Regions from separate parts of the Homo sapiens genome. Here regions 1, 3 and 4 are each linked to region 2. The links come from fine-mapping of genetic effects on gene expression. A gene starts in region 2. Each other region holds a variant in brackets. All regions are shown on one strand. Distances are between the middles of the regions. Region 1 overlaps STAG3 (STAG3 cohesin complex component). Region 2 holds the start of TSC22D4 (TSC22 domain family member 4). Region 3 overlaps ZKSCAN1 (zinc finger with KRAB and SCAN domains 1). Region 4 overlaps SPDYE3 (speedy/RINGO cell cycle regulator family member E3).

Region 1 (5,000 bases), 270 kb after region 2:
CCCCCATCTCCTGTCGTTTTCGACACAGCAGCCAGAAGGATCCTTTAAAAACAGAGGTTGATCCTGTCGTTCCTCAAAATCCTCCAATGGTTTTCCTACTGCACTCAGAGTAAAAGCCAGTCTCTGCCTTAGATGCTCTGGGATCCTGTACCCTCTTTGGTCTCATGTCCTACAATCTGCATTCTGGCCATAATGGTCTTCTCTGCTGTTCCTTGAACATTCCAGGAACATTCCCCCCATCCCCTCGTGGCCTCAGGACTGGCTGCTTCCTTTGGTATGCTATTCTGATACACACTAAGCACCCTCCCTCACCTGTTATAAAAAATTCGCTGGGAGGCCAATAGGCTGAAATGGCTCCTGCACTTTGGGTTCCTAAGTCAGCAAACTGAAACTCAACTCAGAGTGAAAGTGTTGTGTGTAACCTAGGAGCAGGAAACTTCAGCTTAACCAGTCAGAAACTACCGACTAACCTCTAACAAGAGATTTATGGTCAGTTAACCTCTAAATATGAACTTTCCACTCTAACCAATCAAATAGTTTCTTTGTCTTGCTCCCAGAGACACCTTGTAAGTGTCCCCTCTGGTTTCCTCGGTGGTGGCGCCCTGAACTGCTGGCGGTCTGCCACTGCCTGATTGATAAAATTGCTGAATGCTCAAATAAACCTGTTAAAATTGTAATGTGCCTAAGTGTATCTTTTAACTTATTTTTTAGGCTTTTTGCCCAACATTTGTGTTGAGTCTTCCCTTGATCAGTCTTTGTAAGACTGCAATCCCCACCCCGCCAGCATTCCTCACAATCCTCCCTGCTTTTTTGCCATAGTATTTACTACTATCTGACACTCTCTAAAGAAAGAGATGTTTAGCTTTTTTGTTCACTGCTGTATTCCCAGCACACGGTGCTCAGTATCTATTGAATGAATAAAAACAAACTCTTCAGTTTTATCTTGCCTTCACAAACCCTACGCTTTAGGCAGAGCGATCTATGTACCTCCATGCTTCGCCCAGCACACAGCCTTCTATGCTTTGCTTGTGCTATTCTGCCAGCCCATGATGCTCCTCCTTCCTCTGTTCAGCTTATAAAAATCTTACTTATTTTTTAAGCTCCAGCAATTCCATCTTCTTGGTAAAGCTCTCATCATTCTCTGAATTCTACAGCATTCACTTGTACAAGCCCTCAGGCAGTTATTGGCAATTGTTCATAATTCGAGTTTTCCATAATTAAAATTTCTCCCTTTCCTATTAGATAATAAGCTGCTGGATTCTTCATGGCCCCTAAAACACTGAACATAGTATCTTTCATATAGTAGGTCCCTAACAACTATGTATTAGTTAATTAATTAAAGCAGAGTTTCCTGGTGGTATAAGACATAATTTTAGGTGGTACACAGAAGACAACAAAAGGAAATCACACCTCATCTCACACTATATACAAAAATTAACTCAAACTGGATCACAAATCTAAATTAAGAGCTAAAACTATAACTTTTTTTTTTTTTCTGAGACAGTATCTCGCTCTTTCGCCCAGGTTGGAGTGCAGTGGAACAATCTCGGCTCACTGCAAGCTCCGCCTCCCGGGTTCACGCCATTCTCCTGCCTCAGCCTCCCGAGTGGCTGGGACTACAGGCGCCCACCATCATGCCTGGCTAATTTTTTGTATTTTTAGTAGAGACGGGGTTTCACCGTGTTAGCCAGGATGGTCTCAATCTCCTGACCTCGTGATCCGCCCGCCTCGGCCTCCCAAAGTGCTGGGATTACAGGCGTGAGCCACCATGCCCGGCTAAAACTATAACTCTTAGAAGAAAACACAGGAGTAAATCTTTGTGACCTCATGAATTAGCCAACAATTTCTCAAGATATGGCACCAAAAGCACAAGCAACAAAAGGAAAAAGTTAGATTTCACCAAATTCAAGAACTTTTGTGTTTCAAAGGACACCACCAATAACACGAAAAGACAACCCAAAAAATGGGAGAAAATGTTTGCATATCATAAGGAATCTCATGTCTAGAATATATAAAGAATACTTACAACTCAACAATAAAAAGACAACCCTATTTTAAAATAGCTAAAGGATCAGAACAGGCATTTCTCCAAAGAAGATAAACAAATTGTCAATAAGCACATGAAAAGATGCTCAATACCATTTGTCATTAGGGAAATGCAAATTTAAACCACAATGAGATACCACACCTCACAGCTACTAGGAGATGGATAAAATAAAAAAAGACATTAATAAGTACCGGTGACAACATGGAGAAACCAGAGTCCCCATACATTGCTGGTAGGATTGTAAACTGGTGTAGGTACTTTGGAAAACAGTGTGGTAGTTCCTCAAAAACTTAAACATAGAATTGCCATACGAACCAGCAATTCCACTCCCAGGTATATCTCAAGATAACTGAAAAGATGCATCCACCCAAAAATGTGTACATGCATGTTTAGCAGCATTATGCATAAAAGAGCCCAAATGTCAATCAACTGACAAGTGGATAAGTAGAATGTGGCATATCCACACGATGGCATATTGTTTCGGCCATAAAAAGGTATGAGATACTGATATATGTCAAAGTATGGATGAACGTTGAAAACACTGTACTAAGTGAAAGAAGCTGGACATAAAAGGCCACATATTATATGATTCCATTTATATGAAAGGTCCAGAGTAGGCAAATCAAGAGATAGGAATTATATTAGTGATACTACCTAAGGCTGGGAAGATGGGCAGAGACTGCGAATGGGTATGTGGTTTCTTTTGGAAAGATGAAAATGTTCTAAAATTAGATAGTTGTGATGGTTGTACAATTCAGTGAATATGCTAAGTGTACACTTTAAAAGGGTGATTTTTGGCTGGGCACGGGGGCTCACCAGCACTTTGGGAGCACTTTGGGAGGCTGAGGTGGGCAGATCACAAGGTCAGGAGTTTGAGACCAGCCTGGCCAACATGGTGAAACCCTGTCTCTACTAGAAATACAAAAATTGGCTGGGGGTGGTGGTGGAC[G/A]CCTGTAATCCCAACTACTCAGGAGGCTGAGGGAGGAGAACCACTTGAACGTGGGAGGCGGAGGTTGCAGTGAGTCGAGATCACGCCACTGGACTCCAGCCTGGGTGACAGAGCGAGATTCCGTCTCAAAAAAAAAAAAATGATTTTTATGATATGTAAGTTGTATCTCAATAAAGCTGTCACATAAAGTCCCATTTAAAAATGTACACTAGAAAACACATACTTGCATATGAAATAATGATTGCTACAATGTTGCTTAATATGAAGCTGTTTTTTAAAAAGCAAAGAAAAAACCTTAGGCAGCCAGGCACAGTGGCTCACACCTGTAATCCCAGCACTTTGGGAGGCTGAGGCAGGCAGATCATGAGGTCAGGAGATCAAGACCATCCTGGCTAACATGCTGAAAACCCATCTCTACCAAAAATTCAAAAAAAATTAGCCAGGCGTGGTGGCGGGTGCCTGTAGTCCCAGCTACTCGGGAGGCTGAGGCAGGAGAATGGCGTGAACCTGGGAGGCAGAGCTTGCAGTGAGCCGAGATGGCGCCACTGCACTCCAGCCTGGGCAACAGAGCAAGACTCCATCTCAAAAAATAAACAAAAACAAAAACAAAACCTTAGGCAACTTATAAGACAACAGGTGATCTGAAGGTAAAAAACAATGAAGGTTGTGTAAAAGTGTCCAAGGTTTCGAAAATAATGGAATACAAGATGTTGAGGAGGGTACTCTGAATGTATAGATTTCTTAGTTCAATATTTGGTTTTATCATCAGTTTCTTTTTTTTTTTTTTGAGACAGAGTCTCGCTCTGTCACCCAGGCTGGGGTGCAGTCGCGCAATCTCAGCTCACGGCAACCTCCGCCTCCCGGGTTCAAGTGATTCTCCTGCCTCAGCCTCCTGAGTAGTTGGGATTACAGATGCGCGCCACCATGCCCAGCTAATTTTTGTATTTTTAGTAGAGACGGGGTTTCACCATCTTGGCCAGGCTGGTCTCGAACACCTGACCTCGTGAGCCGCCTGCCTCGGCCTCCCAAAGTGCTGGGATTGCAGGCATGAGCCACCACACCTGGCCCTCTATTTGATTTTTAATACAGGTTTTCAGTTGACTAGATAAACCTTGAAAGAAATTAATACCCTGAATGACAGTAGATGCTCAATGAAATACTTGACAAAATAAGTTTGCAGGCAGCCAACGACCACCTGCTGGGCACCCCCATACCCACACACAGCACCCTACCTTCAACGCGCCTCCTCTTGGAGCTGGGGAGGACCTGAGGGCTGGTCTCTGCTGTGTTCTCCACAGGGCTGAGGGAGTGGCAGTAGGTGGTGACTGGGCCCCAGGGATGGCCAGGTGCCTGGGAGACATGCTGCAGGCACTTTTCTAGATAGGACAGTCTATGAAAGAGGTAGAACCAAAAGCCTGAAGGGGCTACTGGGCCCTCAGCAGGCCCTTCCCTAATCCACATCTCTATCCACCCACCAACTTACAAAAGCTGCTTGTCCTGATGGAAGAGTCGGGGGGAAAACTCTGAAAGGAGCTCCAGGAATGCCAGATTTGGAGGCTGATTGGAGGAGCCAGCTGGAGGAAGCTCAGACAAGGAGAACTGGATGCCTTCCCTTGGTTGGGCAGAATTATTTTAGGAAGAAAGTCTCTTCCCACTTCCCTCCCAGGCCTGAGCTATCCTGTCCAAATGCACCCTCCCCCCGTCCCCAGCTTGTCTCCAAAGGCATACCCACCCCTAACCTGACTGCTATGCCTTGACACACATACCCTCCCTCCGAGACCTCCCTCCAAGACCTCGTTCCCAGCCCTCCCTGGACACAACCTGCAACCAATACTTCCTACTTGTGTAGCATGACCACGAGGTCACGGTTCTGCAGCTGCTGGGGTCCAAAACTCAAGGCAAACCTCCGGGCCAGGTCCCTCATCTCGATGAAGGCAGGAAGCTCATTCAGGCCCTGGGGCCCATGCTCCTGCAGCAGTTCTGTGTACAGCTGTGTCCAGGAGA
Region 2 (6,126 bases):
CAAATTAAAATATAAAAATTTGTATGTATTTACTCAACAAACATTTCTGCAGAGATCAACAATGTGCCAGGGCCTCTAGACTCAGATACCAGTGCCTGAGGCAGAGAAAGAGACTGCCCAAAGATAATTTTTGAATAGTTTGTAGCAAGTCAGCAAGAAGGAAGGAGGGTCTGGGGAAGGAGGGACCAAGGCTGTGTTCTGAATGTTGCTAGAGGAGAAAAGGTTCTGTAAGGGACAGAGGGATGCAGTCTAGAGGGGTAGGGAGCAGGTGGGAGGCTGCTTCCCAGACTTCACTACTTGGGAGGCCCACAGACTTGGGCTATGGCAGCCGTTGTTACTATGGCTTAAGGGAGAGAAACAGAAGTGTGGATGCTTCTAACAAAGAGATAAAGAATAAATACATAAAGAGGGTAGGTATTGCATTGTTTTATTTTTACGTACCCCTAAAGAGGGGTTAGAGGCCGGGCGTGGTGGCTTATGCCTGTAATCCCAGCACTTTGGGAGGCCGAGGCGGGCGGATCACGAGGTCAGGAGATCAAGACCATCCTGGCTAACACGGGGAAACCCCGTCTCTAGTAAAAATACAAAAAATTAGCCGGGCATGGTGGCGGGTGCCTGTAGTCCCAGCTACAGGCTGAGGCAGGAGAATGGCGTGAACCCGGGAGGTGGAGCTTGCAGTGAGCCGAGATAGAGCCACTGCACTCCAGCCTGGGCGACAGAGCGAGACTCCGTCTCAAAAAAAGAGGGGTTAGAAATTTCCCTGAGGCCAGGCACCATGGCTCACGCCTGTAATGTCAGCTCTTTGGGAGGCCCAGGTGGAAGTATCATTTGAGGCCAGGAATTCGAGACCAGCCTGGGCAACATAGTAATAACCTGTCTCTACAAAAACTAAAAAATTAGCCAGGTATGGTGGTATACACCTGTGGTCCCAGCTACTAGGGAGGCAGAAGCAGGAGGATCACTTGAGGCCGGGAGTTCAAGACCACCCTGGGCAACATTGCAAGATCCCCATCTCTACCAAAAAAAAAAATTTTTTTTTAAAGAAATTTAGCCAGGCGTAGTAGTGTGTGTCTGTGGTCCCAGCTACTTGGGAGGCTGAGGCAGGAGCATGGCTTGAGCCCAGGAGTTCCAGGCTGTGGTGAGCTATGATCGCACCACTGCACTCCATCCTGGGCAACAGAGAGAGAGAGAGACCCTGTCTCTAAAAAAAAAGGCGGGGGCAGGTTGGGGGAAAGGGGAATAGTATAACATCTAGGATCTGATTTCAAATAGTCCAGCAAACTACAGCTGGCCCCCACACAATGTCATTTCATTGAATGTCATTTCATTATAACATTGATGATTTTCTAAAAATTGATTTTGGGCTGGGACCACCATCTGTGTGGAGTTTGCATGGTCTCCCCATGTCTGCATGGCATGTTTGAAAATTTTCATAATAATCCACTTTTTTTTTTTTTTTGAGACATGGTCTCACTCTGTTGCCCAGGCTGGAGTGCAGTGGCACAATCTTGGCTCACTGCATCCTCAACCTCCTGGGCTCAAGAGATCCTCCTGCCTCACAGCCTCCTGAGTAGCTGGGACTACAGGTATACATCACCACACTCAGTTTTTTTTTTTTTTTAAGATGGAGTCTCACTCTGTCACCAGGCTGGAGTGCAGTGGCGTGATCTCGACTCACTGCAACCTCCGCCTCCCAGGTTGAAGTGATTCTCCTGCCTCAGCCTCCCGAGTAGCTGGGACTACAGGTGCCCGCCACCACACCTGGCTAATTTTTGTATTTTAAGTAGAGACTTGGTTTCACCATGTTGGCCAGGATGGTCTTAATCTCTTGACCTCGTGATCCGCCCGCCTCGGCCTCCCAAAGTGCTAATTTTTTAAATTTTTTGTAGAGATGGGGATCTCGTTATATTGCCCAGGCTGGTCACGAACTCCTGGGCTCAAGCGATCCTCCCACCTTTGAGTAGCTGGAATTATAGGTGCACATCACCATGCCCAGCTATTTTTTTTTATTTTTTGTAGAGATGGGGTCTTGCTATTATATTGTCCAAACTGGTCTCAAGCGATCCTCCTTCCTCGACCTCCCAAAGTGCGGAGATTACAGGCATGAGCCACCACCGGGATCCGGCAATAATCCACTTTTAAAAATAAGGAATGGGGGGAATAATGCAGTTGCTGTGAAAACCAAAGGAGAATGACAGTAACAGCCACAGCTGCCCCACAGCAGGGACTGGGAACTTCTGGGTGGGCATGCAGCACACCTCCCGGCCTGTGCCTTCCGTCTCTTCTGTGTGTCTCTAGGCCAATGGCAGCAATTGACTACAAGTAAGGGAATCCCTCGCCTCCCTGCAAGCTCCTCCCCTTTCTCCCCGAGCCCCGCCCCCTGCAGCCCCTCCCTGCAAGAGTGGGGCTAGGGCCCGGCAGGTGTGGGGTTAAGGGAGTCTGTTTGGGGCCCCCAGGAGCAGCAGCCTAAGCAGTGGCTGCAGCAACTGCAACAGCAGCGGCTGTGGCAGGCCTGGCCCCGGGCCAGCTGGCGGGAAGCCCCAGGAGGGAGGGAGGGAGGAGGAAGGGGAGGAAGAGGGGAAGGAGGAGGAGGAGGAGGAGAGGAGCAGTCAGCAGGCCCGAGGAGGCAGGACTTCCTGGTGTGGGGGTTGTCAACAGCCCAGAAAGAGAAAGACGGAGAGGCAGAGACCCAGGGGAGCCGAGGAGCGGAGACACGGACCCAGCAGGGTCACGCGGGAGGAGACTCGGGACACCCACTCGCTGGCTGCCACCGGGAGCAGAGGGGGGCTCGGCCGCCCCCTCCCACATCAGTCTCCAGACCCTTGGGGCTTCAGAGGCCGCTCCTAGGCTCCTCGGAGGAGGCGCGGGTTTCTTCTTTTCCGGAGAGCAAACTTTCCTCGGAGATGCCTGGCAGGATGAGCCGCGGCCCCCGGAGAGGACGGGACAGCCTCTGATCGCCGCCTGCGTGCCCCGCCACTGCCCATGGCCAGGAGGCCCCAGGGAACGGACAGCCCGACCTCTTAGGCGCCGGGACCCTCAGGCTCAGATCAGTGGCCGAGGCCCCAGAGGTAGGGTTCAGGGCTGGGTGGGGCGCTGGGGGGTAGCCGGGCAGGGCCTGCCCCAGAGATGTGGGAGCTGGGGTGAGGGTGGGGGCTCGAGGCCCAGGAGAGGTCTCTCTGAGTGGCCGGGCCAGGCTGGGGAGCTGCTTCAGCCTGGTTCTCCCAGGCCCTGGAGTCCGAGCTCTTGGGACAATACGGGCCCCCTGAGTCAGAATCCCAGGCGAGAAATGCCCAACTCTGGGACTCATCTGCCTCTTTCTACTCTGAGTGCCTTCTTGGATCCAGTCCCCTCTGCCCTGGTCTCTGTCATCTCTTGCCTGTCTCTGGGTCTCTGACGGTTTCCCCTTCCCCCACTCTGCTCCCCGGAGAGGAAGCCCCGGAGGTGGCCTGCCCACTGGTTTCACACACACACACACACACACACACACACACACACACACACACACACACACTCTCTCTCTCTCTCTCTCTCTCTCTCTCCCCCTCTTTTTCCAGTTTGCAAACTCAGCTCTGGAGTTCAGCAGCAACAGCAGCAGGAAAAACCTGCCCCTGCTCCCCCCTCCCGCCACCTCCCCTCTCCTCTTCTCCCCTCACCCAGCAGGCACCCCCGGTTCCCGCCAGGCCCTCCTGCCATGTCGGACCCAGACGTCCCCAGGGGCTCGGATGTCCCCGCCATGTGGCCCCCTTGTTCCAGGGGTGCCTGAGCCCCTTCAAGGAGCCCCAACCCACCCCCAACCTTGGCCCAGCCCTGAGCCCCAGGGACCATGAGCGGGGGCAAGAAGAAGAGTAGTTTCCAAATCACCAGCGTCACCACGGACTATGAGGGCCCTGGGAGCCCAGGGGCTTCGGATCCCCCTACCCCACAGCCCCCAACCGGGCCCCCGCCCCGCCTGCCCAATGGGGAGCCCAGCCCCGATCCGGGGGGCAAGGGCACCCCCCGGAATGGCTCCCCACCACCTGGGGCCCCTTCCTCCCGTTTCCGGGTGGTGAAGCTGCCCCACGGCCTGGGAGAGCCTTATCGCCGCGGTCGCTGGACGTGTGTGGATGTTTATGAGCGAGACCTGGAGCCCCACAGCTTCGGCGGACTCCTGGAGGGAATTCGAGGGGCCTCAGGGGGCGCCGGGGGCAGATCTTTGGATTCCAGGTTGGAGCTGGCCAGCCTCGGCCTGGGCGCCCCCACCCCACCGTCAGGCCTGTCTCAGGGCCCCACCTCCTGGCTCCGTCCACCCCCCACCTCTCCTGGACCTCAGGCCCGCTCCTTCACTGGGGGACTGGGCCAGCTGGTGGTGCCCAGCAAAGCCAAGGCAGAGAAACCCCCACTGTCGGCCTCCTCACCCCAGCAGCGCCCCCCAGAGCCTGAGACCGGTGAGAGTGCGGGCACATCCCGGGCTGCCACGCCCCTGCCCTCTCTGAGGGTGGAAGCGGAGGCTGGGGGCTCAGGGGCCAGGACCCCTCCACTGTCCCGGAGGAAAGCTGTAGACATGCGGCTGCGGATGGAGTTGGGTGCTCCAGAAGAGATGGGGCAGGTAAGACCTGGGTTCTAGGGCTGGCCCATCAGCCCTGGCCTAACCTCTATCTTGAGCCTCCTTCCTCCTCCTCCCCCCCCTCTCCTCCTCCTTCTCCATCACTTTATAAGATCAGATAGCCCTCTTCTCTGTGCCTGCCAGGTCACTCTGAAGCCCCTTCCTCCTACTTCATTTTCTGTCTCAGCCTCCTTCCTGTTTTTCTGCACCCTCTCTCTTTCTCCCTGGCCTCTGATTCTCTGTCTTGGTCTTCATGTAGCCTGTAGCATATGTGGCCCCCTCATCAGGCCTTCTTCTGTCTTGGTCTCAGCCCCTCTGCCTCTAGGTGATGAGGGTGGAGGCCCCAGCTGGATAGCTGGGTAGCTGGGTCCCTAGGGGAGGAGCTGCCAGGATTTGGGGAGGAAAAGTAAAAGGTAGGCCTTGCGCGCTGCCAGTCTCTGCACTGCAGCCCCATCCTGAATGTGGGGGTCTTTCTTTTCCCCCAGCCACCCATCTCAGTCCTGCCTCCAGCTTTGCTGTAAGCCAAGTGTCACTGAGAAATTGGGTGGGGGGAACACCTCTCAGGGACAGGGAGGGGGCCTGCTGGTTGATCCATTTCACCCCCCAGTTGTCTGGCTCACCCCCGTCCATCTGAGCCTCTCTGTGATTGATAACTCGAGGGTGACCACTGTGGAGTGGGAGAGAAGAGCCCCAGAAGGGAGTTCAGTCCCATACTCTTTCTCCTTCCTGTCTCCAAAAGAGGAACAAGCCAGGCTGTGGGGGCAGGATGCCTGGGTCCCCATGGTGGGGGTGAGCAGCCAGAGATAGAAGGTTGGATACTTCTGTCCTGTGGGAGAATATAACACCTCGGAGGTCTGGGGAAAGGCAGGGAGTGTGAGGATGCGAACTCTTTCCCCTTCCTGGCCTTGGGCACAAACCACAGTATAAAAATAACCTGGGACTGGATGTCTGGGTCCTGTCAGGACCGGTCAGGACTGGCTCCCCCCAAACCCCTCCTGGCCTCAAGCTCACATCTCTCGTGATGCCCCCTCCTACCCCCCCTCCCCCAACTCTTCTTGAACTCTTGCATTCAGCACCCACCCCAGGGGAGAAGATGCTGTTTCTCTTCCTGTCCTGTCCCCAGACTCTTCCAAAGCAAACCCCCTTGGCCTCCAGCTTCCCTGCTCTCTGTCCTTAAGCCTGGCCTGAGCTTCTCTTGGGGCCACAGACCCTGCCTCTCTCTCTCAGTGCCCCCTACTCCCCAGCCTTCCCCCACCTCCTGACGGTCTTCTGTTTGCACGCATCTGTTTTGCTATTTCCTTGCCCAAAAGTCTGTCTCCCTTCCACGTCCCCTCATGCCTCTTCTCCCTCTTAACAGAGGGGAGTGGTGGAGAAGGGCCAGGGGACACCACCTGGGCCCCCTTCCTCTGCTCTGTCCCTTAACCACCCTGGACTCTCTGTTCTTGGCTTTTCTGAGAAGCTGGGGCCTCCCGGGGCCTCACAGAGGCGTCTTGTCATGTTCCTGTCGCCCCCGCCCTTTTTGCTGCTGCCCCCAGAGCCTGTTG
Region 3 (6,126 bases), 430 kb after region 2:
GACAGGGTTTCACCATGTTGGCCAGGATGGTCTTGATCTCCTGACCTCATGATCTGCCCGCCTCGCCCTCCCAAAGTGCTGGGATTACAGGTGTGAGCCACCGTGCCCGGCTGTTTCTTTACTTCTCTAATAAACTTGCTTTCTCTTAAAAAAAAAAAAAAATGAGCCTTGGCAGGGCACGGTGGCTCACGCCTGTAATCCCAGCACTTTAGGAGGCTGAGGCAGGCGGATCACAAGGTCAAGAGATCGAGACCATCCTGGCCAACATGGTGAAACTCTGTCTCTATTAAAAATACAAAAATTAGCTGGGTGTGGTGGCACATGCCTGTAATCCCAGCTACTCGGGTGGCTGAGGAAGGACAATTGCTTGAACCCAGGAGGCAGACATTGCAGTGAGCTGAGATTGCACCCCTGCACTACAGCCTGGTGACAGAGTGAGACTCTGTCTCACCAAAAAAAAAAAAAAAGCCTCCATATACATTGGCCAGCTTTAACAATTGTTACATGGTTAGTCCTTTTAATTCATTCCCCCATGGTCTTGAACTCGTGACCTCAAGTGATCCACCTGCCTCAGCCTCCCAAAGTGCTGGGAGCCACCGTGAGCCACTGTGCCTGGCCCCAAAATCTCCATTTTATAGACCAGGAAACAGGCTCCAAAAAGTCACTTTTCCAATATCACACAACTGATACGTGGGAGCATCAGGAGTGAAACTTGGCCCCCTTTCTCCAAAGCCTGTGCTCTACTGCCTCTCAGTTAGACGGGGAAGAAAGAGATGGGAAATGGAAACAGGATCACCAGGACAGAGGGAAGAACCGGGAAACCTACACACATTTCAAGAGCCACACCTGTGTCGATGCTTTGGTGGGGCTCCATTCAGCCTCTTGGTCAACGGGTCTTTGTCTAGTTATGAAACCATTAAGTGGTTATGCTGGGGCTTGAAGAAAATCCATCTATTTCCAAACCCATTGTCCTTTCCAGGGCTGAGATGCTCCTCAAGCAAAGGGGCTTAGAGCTGCTGTAAAATATTAACGTCAAAAGAGACCTTAAGGACAATCTGGTTAAACTCTTGTTTCTTGTTTTCAGTTGAAGAAACCAGTGCCTGAAGAAGTCGGATCCAAGGTACACTAGTTAGCTAATTAGTATCAAAGCTGAGAGCACAAGCCAGATTCTCCAATCCTGTGTGCTTGCTGTGTCTCAAGAGATTTTTTATTTTTATTTATTTATTTGCGGTAGGGCCTCACTCTGTTGCCCAGGCTGGAGTGCAGTGGTGTGATCATAGCTCACTGCAGCCTCCAACTCCTGGACTCAAGTGATCCTCCCACCTCAGCCTCCCGAGTAGGCACATGCTACCATGCCTGGCTATTTTTCTAAAAAATTATTTCTTTTTTTTTTTTTTTTGAGACGGAGTCTCGCTCTGTCGCCCAGGCTGGAGTGCAGTGGCGTGATCTCGGCTCACTGCAAGCTCCGCCTCCCAGGTTCACACCATTCTCCTGCCTCAGCCTCCCGGGTAGCTGGGACTACAGGCACCCGCCACCATGCCCGGCTAATTTTTTGTATTTTTAGTAGAGACGGGGTTTCACCGTGTTAGCCAGGATGATCTCGATCTCCTGACCTCGTGATCCACCCGCCTCGGCCTCCCAAAGTGCTGGGATTACAGGCGTGAGCCACTGCGCCCAGCCCCTAAAAAATTATTTCTAGGGGTTTTACCATGTTGCCCAGGCTGGTAGAGAACTCCTGGGCTCAAGCAATCCTGCTGCCTCAGCCTCCCGAGTAGCTGGGACCACAAAAGAAAAATAATTCCCATGCACGCCACCATGCTGGACAATTTTTTTTTTTTTTTTTTTTTTGGTGAGACTGAGTCTTGCTCTGTCGCCAGGCTGGAGTGCAGTGGCGCCATCTCGGCTCACTGCAACCTCCAACTCCCTGGTTGAAGCAATTCTCCTGCCTCAGCCTCCCAAGTTGCTGGGATTGCAGGCATGCGCAATCACACCTAGCTTTTTGTATTTTTAGTAGAGATGGGGTTTCACCATGTTGGGCAGGATGGTCTGGATCTCCTGACCTCAGGATCTGCCCACCTCGGCCTCCTAAAGTGCTGGGATTACAGGCGTGAGCCACCGCACCCGCACCGCACCTATTTTTTGAAAAAATGTTTCGTAGGGGTTTCGCCATGTTGCCCAGGCTGGTCGAGAATTCCTGTGCTCAAGCAATCCTCCTGCCTCAGCCTCCCAAGTAGCGGGATCAGATGCACACCACCATGCCTGGGAGATTATTGGCTTGACAAAAGAAAAATAATTCCAGTGCCCTTTGCAGCGGAAACCCAGGAGAGGAAAAGATTCCAGCATTTAGTGTTGTCTCTGGCACCTTCCTTCCATTTCCAGTAAGGTGTTCATGGTTCTCTCTAAAAAGGTGCATTTCTGGATCTTCCTCGCTCGTTCTCATCATCACCTATTTTTGCTGCCATCAGCTGGCCAGCAGAGGGTAACCAAACCGTGACTTCCCTTAGAGCAGGCTGGGCAAGCCTCTGGCGCATGACAACTCCGAACATGTCCTTTTTCTTCCAGGAAGCAGAAGACATGTGCAGCATGTTGGAAAGCTGCAAAGACATTTGCTAAAGAAATTGAAAGGAAAAGAGAATGAAAGTGGAATGGTGGAGTTAAACTTCATGAAAAAAATTATTCAGTGCTACTTTTTTTTTTTTTTTTTTTTTTTTTGAGATAGAGTCTCACGCCATCACCCAGGCTGGAGTGCAGTGGCACGATCTCAGCTCATTGCAAGCTCCACCTCCCGGGTTCACGCCATTCTCCTGCCTCAGCCTCCCGAGCAGCTGGGACTACAGGCACCCGCCACCACGCCTGGCTAATTTTATTTTATTTTTTTGTATTTTTTTTAGTAGAGACGGAGTTTCACCGTGTTAGCCAGGATGGTCTCGATCTCCCGACCTCGTGATCCGCCTGCCTCAGCCTCCCAAAGTGCTGGGATTACAGGCGTGAGCCACCATGCCCGGCTCAGTGCTACTTGTTAAAGCATGGTAAGGAAGACTTTATTCAGGACCATCCTAATAAATACAGGAACCACTGCAGTGGGGTCTTGCAGTGAGGGGAGAGAGATTGGGCTCAGCTCTGAACACAGCATGGGCAAGTGGCAATTTATAGCCAAGGAGCAGGATGGGGGTCAGTGTATGGAAAATGATCAAGAGGAAACATCAGAGGGAAGGGGTATTCTTGCTGAACACAGGCCAGGCTGATCAGACATCGCCTGGGGGATGGTGGAGGACAAGGAACCTGACCAGATAAATATCAAGAGTAATTAGATATGGGCTGGGAGCGGTGGCTCACGCCTGTCATCCCAGCACCCTGGGAGGCTGAGGCAGGTGGATCACTTGAAGTCAGGAGTTCGAGACCAGCCTGGCCAACATGGCGAAACCCCGTCTCTAAAAAAAATACAAAAATTAGCTGGGTGTAGTGGTGTGCACCTGTAGTCCCAGCTACTCGGGAGGCTGAGTCAGGAGAATCACTTGAACCCAG[G/C]GGGTGGAGGTTGCAGTGAGCTGAGATCATGCCCTCCAGCTTGGGCAACAGAGAGAGATTCTGTCTCCAAAAAAAAAAAAAAAAAAAAAAAAAAAATCAAGAAAGAAAAGAAAAAGAAAAAAGCCTAAGTAGATATGGAGGGTGGGAGGTTTTTGCTAAACTTAGCAGGGTTCTTGCTAAAACTGGATTTTAGGCCCTTGCATGGTGGCTCATGAATATAATCCCAGCACTTCGGGAAGCTGAGGTGGGAGGATTGCTTGAGGCCCAGGAATTTGAGACCAGCCTGGGCAACATAGCAAGACCCTGTCTCTGCAAAAAATTAAAAAAAAATCTAGGCGTAGTGATGCATGCCTGTAGTCCCAGCTGAGGCTGAAATAGGAGGATTGCTTGAGTCCAGGAGGTTGAGGTTGCAGTGAGCCACAATCGTGCCACTGCACTCCAGCCTGAGCAACAGAACGAGACTTGTCTTACAAAAATAAAGAAAAATAAAATCCAGTTCTGGGTCGGGCACAGTGGCTCACGCCTGTAATCCCAGCACTTTGGGAGGCCAAGGTGGGAGGATTGCTTGAGGACAGGAGTTCGAGACCAGCCTGGGCAACATAGGGGGACCCCCATCTCTATAAAAGAAAAAATAATTATTAAGAAAAAATAGGGCTGGGTGTGGTGGCTCACACCTGTGAGGCCAAGGCAGGCAGATCACTTGAGCCCAAGAGTTCAAGACCAGCTTGGGAAATAGCCAGACTGTCACTACAAAAAATACCCAAAAAAGGCCAGGTGCGGTGGCTCACGCCTGTAATCCCAGCACTTTGGGAGGCCTAGGCAGGCAGATCATGAGGTCAGGAGATCGAGACCATCCTGGCTAACACTATGAAACCCCGTCTCTACTAAAACATACAAAAAAAGTTAGCCGGGCACAGTGGCGGGCGCCTGTAGTCCCAGCTACTCGGGAGGCTGAGGCAAGAGAATGGCGGGAACCCGGGAGGCGGAGCTTGCAGTGAGCCGAGATGGCGCCACTGCACGCCAGCCTGGGAGACAGAGCGAGACTCCGTCTAAAAAAAAAAAAAAAAAAACCCAAAAATTACCTGGGTGTGGTGGTGTATTCGTATACACACACACACACACACACACACGTGTATCTATACACATATACACATACACATGTGTATATATAATAAAAATATATATGAGACCTATGAGCCATCCCAGCAAATTATCAAACCTGAGACTGAGGAGAAGATTGTGGAAGCCCTTGATTTATAGCCGGTCCAAAGCACAGGTGAAAACCCGGAATGTAAGACTGGCGTCTGAAATGGGGGCAGTCTTGAGGGACTGAGCCCACAACCTGTGGAGTCTGCATCAGTTACAGGTAGTGTCAGAATTGAATTGAATCGTATGGCACCCAGTTGGTGTCCAGAGAATTGGTTGGTGTATGAAAAAAAATCCCACATTGTGTCAGAAGTGTGAGTAAAAACAGTCAGAGATGTGTTTGGATGCCTCCTGGACACAACCTCACATCCTCCCAGTTCACCTTTTTTTTTTTTTTTTTTTTGAGACAAAGTCTCACTCTGTTGCCCAAGCTGGAGTGCAGTGGTGCGATCTCGGCTCACTGCAACCTCCCCCTCCTGGGTTCAAGTGATTCTCCTGGCTCAGCCTCCCGAGTAGCTGGGACTACAGGCGCCCGCCACCACGCCTGGTTAATTTTTGTATTTTTAGTAGAGAGGGGGTTTCACCATGTTGGCCAGGCTGGTTTCGAACTCCTGGCCTCAGGTGATCTGCCTGCCTCGGCCTCCCAAACTGCAGGGATTACAGGCATAAGCCACCATGGCTGGCCATGTCTATCAGTCTTAAAGAGTCTGTTGTTATCAGTAATTCCATATGGGGAGAGGGTATAATGAGGCATGTTTGGCTCCCCCTTCCCATCATGGCCTGAACTAGTTTTTCAGGTTAACTTTGGAATGCCCTTGGCTGAGAGGAGAGGTCCATTCAGGTGACTGGGTGGCCTTTGAAATTTAATTTTGGTTTGCAAAGTAAACAGATAGTTTTGCATGAGAATTTTGTTTGTGGGTTGCAGCTCCAGTCTTTTAACTTTGGAATACTTTTTTTTCTTCACCCCCAATGTGTATTTATGCAACCAAGGATGAGAAAAACAAAGAACAAAAAACAAACCAGCACAAGCACTGCCACCTAGAGATGATAATTTATTGTTTTACCATGACTCAGAAGAGAAACAACATAAAGAGAATATTTCAAATCCCCACAATTTCCTTCCTCAACCTCACTACTCTTAACATTTCTTTATCAGACGCCACTGGCTTCCTAAAATGGACCACTGACTATGTATGTGTACACATTTCATTATGCTGCCTTTTCTCTTATGATTAAAACTTTAGCCCTCATTCGAGGTTTCCAATGGTTACTTTTAGTGGAGGAGTTCCCTAGCTTTTAAAAAACCACTTTTCCTCTAAGATTCCATTATTTATTGAAAGAAGTCTTTCTAGAAATGTTAAGGAGGATTTTAAATGAACACATTCAATTAAAAAAAAAATCACGTATTGAACATCTACCAAGCATCTGGACTCTTCGGAACCTAGTAAAATGAAA
Region 4 (6,126 bases), 150 kb after region 2:
TTGGATCTTGCAATAAAGTAATGCTGGGAGATGTGATCTGACTGGATCCTGCCATGGGGTGACGCCAAAACTCAATCTGATTGGATCCTGGCTCCTGCCTTGGGGTGTCTGGTTCTTAAATCGGTCCGAGCTCTTCAGGCTGAGCTCTTAGGTTCCACTCCACGGTGGCACGCTTGGTTAACCTGGGCATGCACAGGGTACATGACCTTCAACCTGCGGGTCGATGGCAATTGAAAAACAACTGACAACTTCATTACATAAAAGTTGAACTGATTCGGGTGCGGTGACTCACGCCTGTAATCCCAGCACTTTGGGAGGCCAAGGCAGGTGGATCACCTGAGGTCGAGGAGTTCAAGACCAGCCTGGCCAAAATGGTGAAACCCCGTCTCTACTAAAAATATAAATATTAGCCAGGCGTGGTGGCGCACCCTTGTAATCCCAGCTACCCCAGAGGCTGAGGCAGCAGAATGCTTGAACCTAGGACGTGGAGGTTGCAGTGAGCTGAGATCGTGCCATTGCACTCCAGCCTGGGTGACAAGAGCGAAACTCCATCAAAAAAAAAAAAAAAAAAAGTTGAACTAGATTTGGTCTGATGCAGTTACAGATTTACAAACCGCGTCCCACCCTCCTGCCGACACCTTCCACTCCTCATTCTTGAGGGATTAGGGATGGAGGTCATGCTTCTGTATCGACTTCATGCTGACTAGGGGCACTTAGTCCCCTAAAGTGAGAGGAATGAAACTCTTGGGCTTCTGAGTTCAAATGAGTTCTGGGGTCACCTGGAGTAGCTTGAAAGGCTGGTATTGTTGTAATACAAGCTGAAGGTGGAAGTGTTGGATCCTGGAGGACAAACAGCTCACCATCCATTTAAATAAATAGGACCAAAAAGTAACAGAACAGTGGCCACGAGGCGCCCCAACAGAGGAAGAAACCAGGTGAGGTGTGGTATAGTGGACTCGACTGCCTTCTAAATCTCAGTGGTTGGCCAGGTGCGGTGGCTCACGCCTGTAATTCCAGCAAAAGAAGAGCCGAGGCAGGGTGATCACGAGGTCAGGAGTTCAAGACCAGCCTGGCAAACATGGTGAAACCCCGTCTCTACTGAAAATACAAAAATTAGCCAGGTGTGGTGGCGTGTGCTGTAGTCCCAGCTACTAGGGAGGCTGAGGCAGGAGAATTGCTTGAACCTGGGAGGCGGAGGTTGCAGTGAGCCGAGATTGTGCCACTGCACTCCAGCCTAGGTAACAGAGCGGGACTCCATCTCAGTCAATCAATCTCAGTGGTTGTACTACCCTTGATATGGTTCAGCTCCGTATCCCCACCCAAATCTCATGTCAAATTGCAATTCCCAGTGTTGAGGGAGGGACCTGGTAGGAGGTGATTGGCTCATGGCGGCTGACGTCCCCCTTGCTGTTCTCATGATAGTGAGTGAGCGCTCATGGGATCTGGTTGTTTAGAAGCATGCACCACCTCCCGCTTCACTCTCTCTGTCTCTCCTGCTCCACCATGGCCAGAAACGTGCCTGCTTCCCCTTCGCCTTCTGCCGTGATTGTCAGTTTCCTGAGGCCTCCCCAGCCATGCTTCCTGTACAGCCTGCAGAACTGTGAGTCAATTAAACCTGTTTTCTTCATAAATTCCCCAGTTTCCAGTAGTTCTTTATAGCAGTGTGAAAACAGACTAATGGACCCTTCTGGTTGAAGGAATGTAGCCATTCTGCTTGTTTGACTATTTCCTTTCTATTCATCTCTATTTCCCGGGAGGTGTTTATCCAAGTGCAATAGGAGATATTGGTGACTGCAGAGTCCCCTCAGTGTTCTGCTAGTAAATAGTTGAAGGTTGATCAGTGATCTCCTGCATTTTCAGTCTGGCATGGAAAAGCCCCCATGTAACTGGTAAAGGTATCAGTAAGCACCAGGAGGTATCTAAATCCACCAGGAGCCATAGGCATCATGTTGACGTCCATTTACCAGTCTTCCCTGGCAAGATTCTCTGAATTGTACTGCCTTGGCCAAAAGAGGTATGGGAGGGGCTGGGCACAGTGGCTCACGCCTGTAATCCCAGCATTTTGGGAGACCAATTCGGGTAGATCATTAGAGGTCAGGGGTTCAAGACCATCCTGGCCAACATGGTGACATTCCATCTCTACTAAAAATACAAAAAGTTAGCTGGGTTTGGTGTTGGGTGCCTGTAATCCCAGCTACTCGGGAGGCTGAGGCAGGATAATCACTTGAACCTGGGAGGTGGAGGTGGCAGTGAGCTGAGATCTCGCCATTGCACTCCAGCCTGGGCAACAAGAGCGAAACTTCATCTCAAAAAATAAAGAAGTCTGGGTGCGGTGGCTCGTGCCTGTAATCCCAGGACTTTGGGAGGCCAAGACGGGTGGATCATGAGGTCAGGAGTTCAAGACCAGCCTGGCCTAGATGGTGAAACCCTGTCTCGAGTAAAAATACAAATATTAGCTGGGCATGGTGGCACACACCTGTAATCTCAGCTACTCAGAAGTCTGAGACAGAAGAATTGCCAAAACCCGGGAGGGAGAGGTTGCAGTGAGCCGAGATCGCGCCACTGCACTCTAGCCTGGGCGACAGAGCAAGACTCTGTCTCGAAAGAAAGAAAGAGAAAGGAAATTCCCCAGGGAAGTACCTCCGCTTATTTCATGAAGAGGTACTGAAGGAAGCAGAGGCATGTGGAGGACTTCCCCACCTCGTGCAGCTATTTGGGCCGTGGCGTCTGAAATTTCTTATTTCAGAGTCACCCCTTTGATGACCTTGGCAGTGGACTGCAGTCATCTGTTTAGGCCTCTCCATGGCCCGCGTCAATGCCGGTATTTCTGTCTGTTGCGCATTTGATTTCCTTGTTGTTGGCATTTAGAAGGCCCCCTGTTTCCCAGATCACACCACGGGCATGGACCGCAGAGATTGCGTCTTGTGAGTCTGTAGAAACAGTCAAGGCCTTGTCCTCTCTTAGGTCCAGAGCTCAGGTTAATGCAGATTTTCCCGGCCGTCTGTGCTGAACTCCCTGCGGGGAGGCTCCTGGCTGGTTTCCTGTAGGTAGACAGCTACACATCCTGCCCTTCATTGGCTTCTTTTCATGAAGCTCCTGCTGTCTACAAAACATGTCTCCCTTTTCTTCTTGAACCACATCTCTGTTATTGAAACTCTAGAAGTCAGCCAGGCACGGTGGCTATGCCTGTAATCCCAGCACTTTGGGAGGCCAAGGTGGGCGGATCACCTGAGGTCAGGAGTTCAAGACCAGCCTGGCCAACATGGCGAAACCCTGTCTCTAATACAAATACTAAAATTAGCCAAGCATGGTGGCCGCTGCACTCCAGCCTGGGCGACAGAGCAAGACTCTGTCTCAAATAAAGAAAGAGAAAGTATCATGCTTTTCAGAGTTCTGTGGGTTGTTATAGTGAATTATCAAACCTGAGGACGTGGTGGGAACCTCCAAATTTGCAGCCAGTTGGTGAGAAGTACATGCAGTCTGTGGACACCCAAGCTTGCAGCTGCATCTGAAGCGAGGGCAGCCTAGCGGGGGCTGGTGGCCTTAACCTGTAGCATTTGATGTAACATCAGGGAGTTGACATCAGAATTACGTCACACAGGCCAGGTGCAGTGGCTCATGCTTATAATCCCAGCAATTAGAAAGGCAAGATAAGAAGATCGCTTGAGCT[T/G]CAGTCTGAGCCCGCAGTGAGCTGTGACCGCACCACTGCACCCCAGTCTGGGTGACAGCACAAGACCCCGACTCCAAAAATAAAAAAGAAAAATCACAAAGAATTGCATGGCAGAGCGCCTGTCTTTCACAGCTTGAACTGTTGCAGGAACTTTCTTTTTTTCTTTTTTTTCTTTTTTTTTTTGTGATGGAGTCTCGCTCTGTCACCCAGGCTGGAGTGCAGTGGCGCGATCTCAGCTCACTGCAGGCTCCACCTCCTGGGTTCACACCATTCTCCTGCCTCAGCCTCCGGAGTAGCTGGGACTATAGGCGCCTGCCACCGCGCCCAGCTAATTTTTTGTATTTTTAGCAGAGATGGGGTTTCACCATATTAGCCAGGATGGTCTTGATCTCCTGACCTTGTGATCCGCCCGCCTCAGCCTCCCAAAGTGCTGGGATTACAGTCCTGAGCCACCGCGCCTGGCCCTTTTTTTTTTTTTTTTTTTTGAGAGGGGTTGGGGAGACATATTCTCTGCTGGTGATTCTCCTGCCTGGTCTCGAACTCCTGCTGGGATCACAGGCGTGAGCCACCACGCCCAGCCACCTTTAGAGTTTTCTTACCACCTGGTTTTCCTCTCTCAATATCTTTCTCTCATTTCCTGCTTTAAAACTCTAGCCTGGGGTCTGGGCGCAGTAGCTCATGCCTATAATCCCAGCACTTTGGGAGACTGAGGCGGGTGGATCACTTGAGGTCAGGAGTTTGAGACCAGCCTGGCCAACATGGTGAAACCTTGTCTCTACTATTTTTACAAAAGTTAGTCAGACGTACAGGCGGGTGCCTGTAGTCCCAGCTACTTGGGAGGCTGAGGCAGGAGAATTTGCTTGAACGCGGAGGTGAAAGTTGCAGGGAGCCGAGGTTGTGCCACTGCACTCCAGCCTGGGAGACAGAGCGAGACTGTCTCCAAAACAAACAAACAAACAAACAAAAAAACCCTGTAGCTTGGGATCAGCCTTCTCTTCTATTGTTTTTCTTTAAAAAATAAAAATTAAAAATAGGCTTCAAGTGATCCTCCCGCCATGACCTCCAAAACTGCTGGGATTGTAGGTGTGAGCACTGCACCCAGCCTTATGTTTTTTTCTACATAAAAAACAACACAGGATTATCTTCCAGAGCTAATAAATATGTTCAAATAACCACAACCCCATTAAGGAAAAATGTCACTTGACAGCAAATAATCAATCCAGACCACAATATGATCACACTCACTGTGAAGGTGAGAAAAGTTCATCTTTATTATGTTTCCCCAAGAGATGCACTGCACTGTTCTCTTGAAAACACACAGCTCATGTCCTCCTTTAGAACACACATCCTCTTTAAAGTAACATACAAACATGCCAAAACAAGATAAAAAATTCCATCTGAATTCTCACATTTCAAACATACACTAAATATCAAATAAAAATTTATTTTTACAAGAATTTAGGGGAACTACCACATAGCTATAAATGTAATATATACATTAACTAAGTATCATAGATAAAAAGTCTGCTCCCTTCAGCAGCATATGTAGTAATAGATACAAAGATTGAAAGGTAAAAGATTTAGGATAAAAAGAATCCTCTCTTAAAAAGGAAAACAAAATTATATTTATGTGTATATAACAGTTATAATACCCATCACACAGCTTTATAGAAACAGCATCTATTCAAAAATACCAGTATTTCCAAAATATTTAAAATAATATTTAAAGTAATAACATTTAAATAAATAAATATATTTAATAAATATTTAAATAAATAAATATATTTAATAAATATTTAAATAAATAAAATAATATTTAAATAATTCTTTGCCCATCTTTTTCGAAATAAATCAATAAAATAGATAGTATATATTAGACATGTTAGTATATATATCTAAGACATGTTAAAAATCACAACTGAATTCTCACAATTCAGTCACAAACCTAAACAGCAAATAAAAATTTCTATGACCAGAATTTGGGGGAACTACCAATAGCTATAAATAGAAGAGATTATTATGGAAGTATCATAGATAAAAAGAGTGCTCGCTTCAGGAGCACATATAATAATACAGAGAAAAATTTAAAGATAATAAAAGATTTAGGATAAAAAGAATTCTCACTTAAAAATGAAAAGAAAATTATCTTTATGTATATATAACAACTATAACTCTCATCAAAAAACTCTACAGGAACAGCATGTTTTCAAAAGTACAACAATTTCCAAACTATTTGAAATAAACCTATTAATGATTCAATGGCCAACATTTTCCAAACAAACCAATAAAATGCATAGTGTGCATGAAGCTATCTGTTACAGTCTGTGGCACTCATATTTCACAAAGAATTCTGTGCCAATCTGAGCCCCTGCACTGTGCCTTCAAATGCTCCTGGACTGTGGCAACCAAGTCCGTAAGAAACAGGACCTCCAGGTTCCGCCCCAGGGAGGTTGGCA

The links. PIP is the estimated chance that this variant, and not a neighbour inherited with it, causes the effect.
Region 1: its variant is the best candidate, but not a certain one, in a credible set for the expression of TSC22D4 in whole blood (TOPMed, PIP 0.53).
Region 3: its variant is the best candidate, but not a certain one, in a credible set for the expression of TSC22D4 in blood mononuclear cells (TOPMed, PIP 0.54).
Region 4: its variant is the best candidate, but not a certain one, in a credible set for the expression of TSC22D4 in whole blood (TOPMed, PIP 0.76).

What each region holds. Positions count from the first base shown.
Region 1 is chr7:100,204,613-100,209,612 of GRCh38, reverse strand. It overlaps STAG3 (STAG3 cohesin complex component), which reads right to left. Exons shown (of 34, transcript NM_001282717.2): 27 at 4,838-4,986; 28 at 4,480-4,608; 29 at 4,229-4,386. It also overlaps the pseudogene CASTOR3P. Among named protein-coding and RNA genes, the nearest start is that of PVRIG, 13 kb to the left of the region's middle. The variant G/A (reference allele first, on the strand shown) is at 2,997.
Region 2 is chr7:100,475,736-100,481,861 of GRCh38, reverse strand. TSC22D4 (TSC22 domain family member 4) reads left to right here and starts at 2,648. Exons shown (of 5, transcript NM_030935.5): 1 at 2,648-3,068; 2 at 3,555-4,585. The coding sequence starts at 3,824. It overlaps TSC22D4-C7ORF61 (TSC22D4-C7orf61 readthrough), which reads left to right and starts at 2,648. Exons shown (of 6, transcript NM_001395846.1): 1 at 2,648-3,068; 2 at 3,555-4,585. The coding sequence starts at 3,824. RefSeq lists enhancers at 2,133-2,242, 2,943-3,012 and a silencer at 2,333-2,492.
Region 3 is chr7:100,041,267-100,047,392 of GRCh38, reverse strand. ZKSCAN1 (zinc finger with KRAB and SCAN domains 1) reads right to left here. Exons shown (of 6, transcript NM_003439.4): 6 at 5,704-6,126. Among named protein-coding and RNA genes, the nearest start is that of ZSCAN21, 5.4 kb to the left of the region's middle. The variant G/C (reference allele first, on the strand shown) is at 3,526.
Region 4 is chr7:100,321,165-100,327,290 of GRCh38, reverse strand. It overlaps SPDYE3 (speedy/RINGO cell cycle regulator family member E3), which reads right to left. Exons shown (of 11, transcript NM_001004351.5): 11 at 5,095-6,126. It also overlaps the pseudogene PMS2P1. Among named protein-coding and RNA genes, the nearest start is that of STAG3L5P-PVRIG2P-PILRB, 12 kb to the left of the region's middle. The variant T/G (reference allele first, on the strand shown) is at 3,671.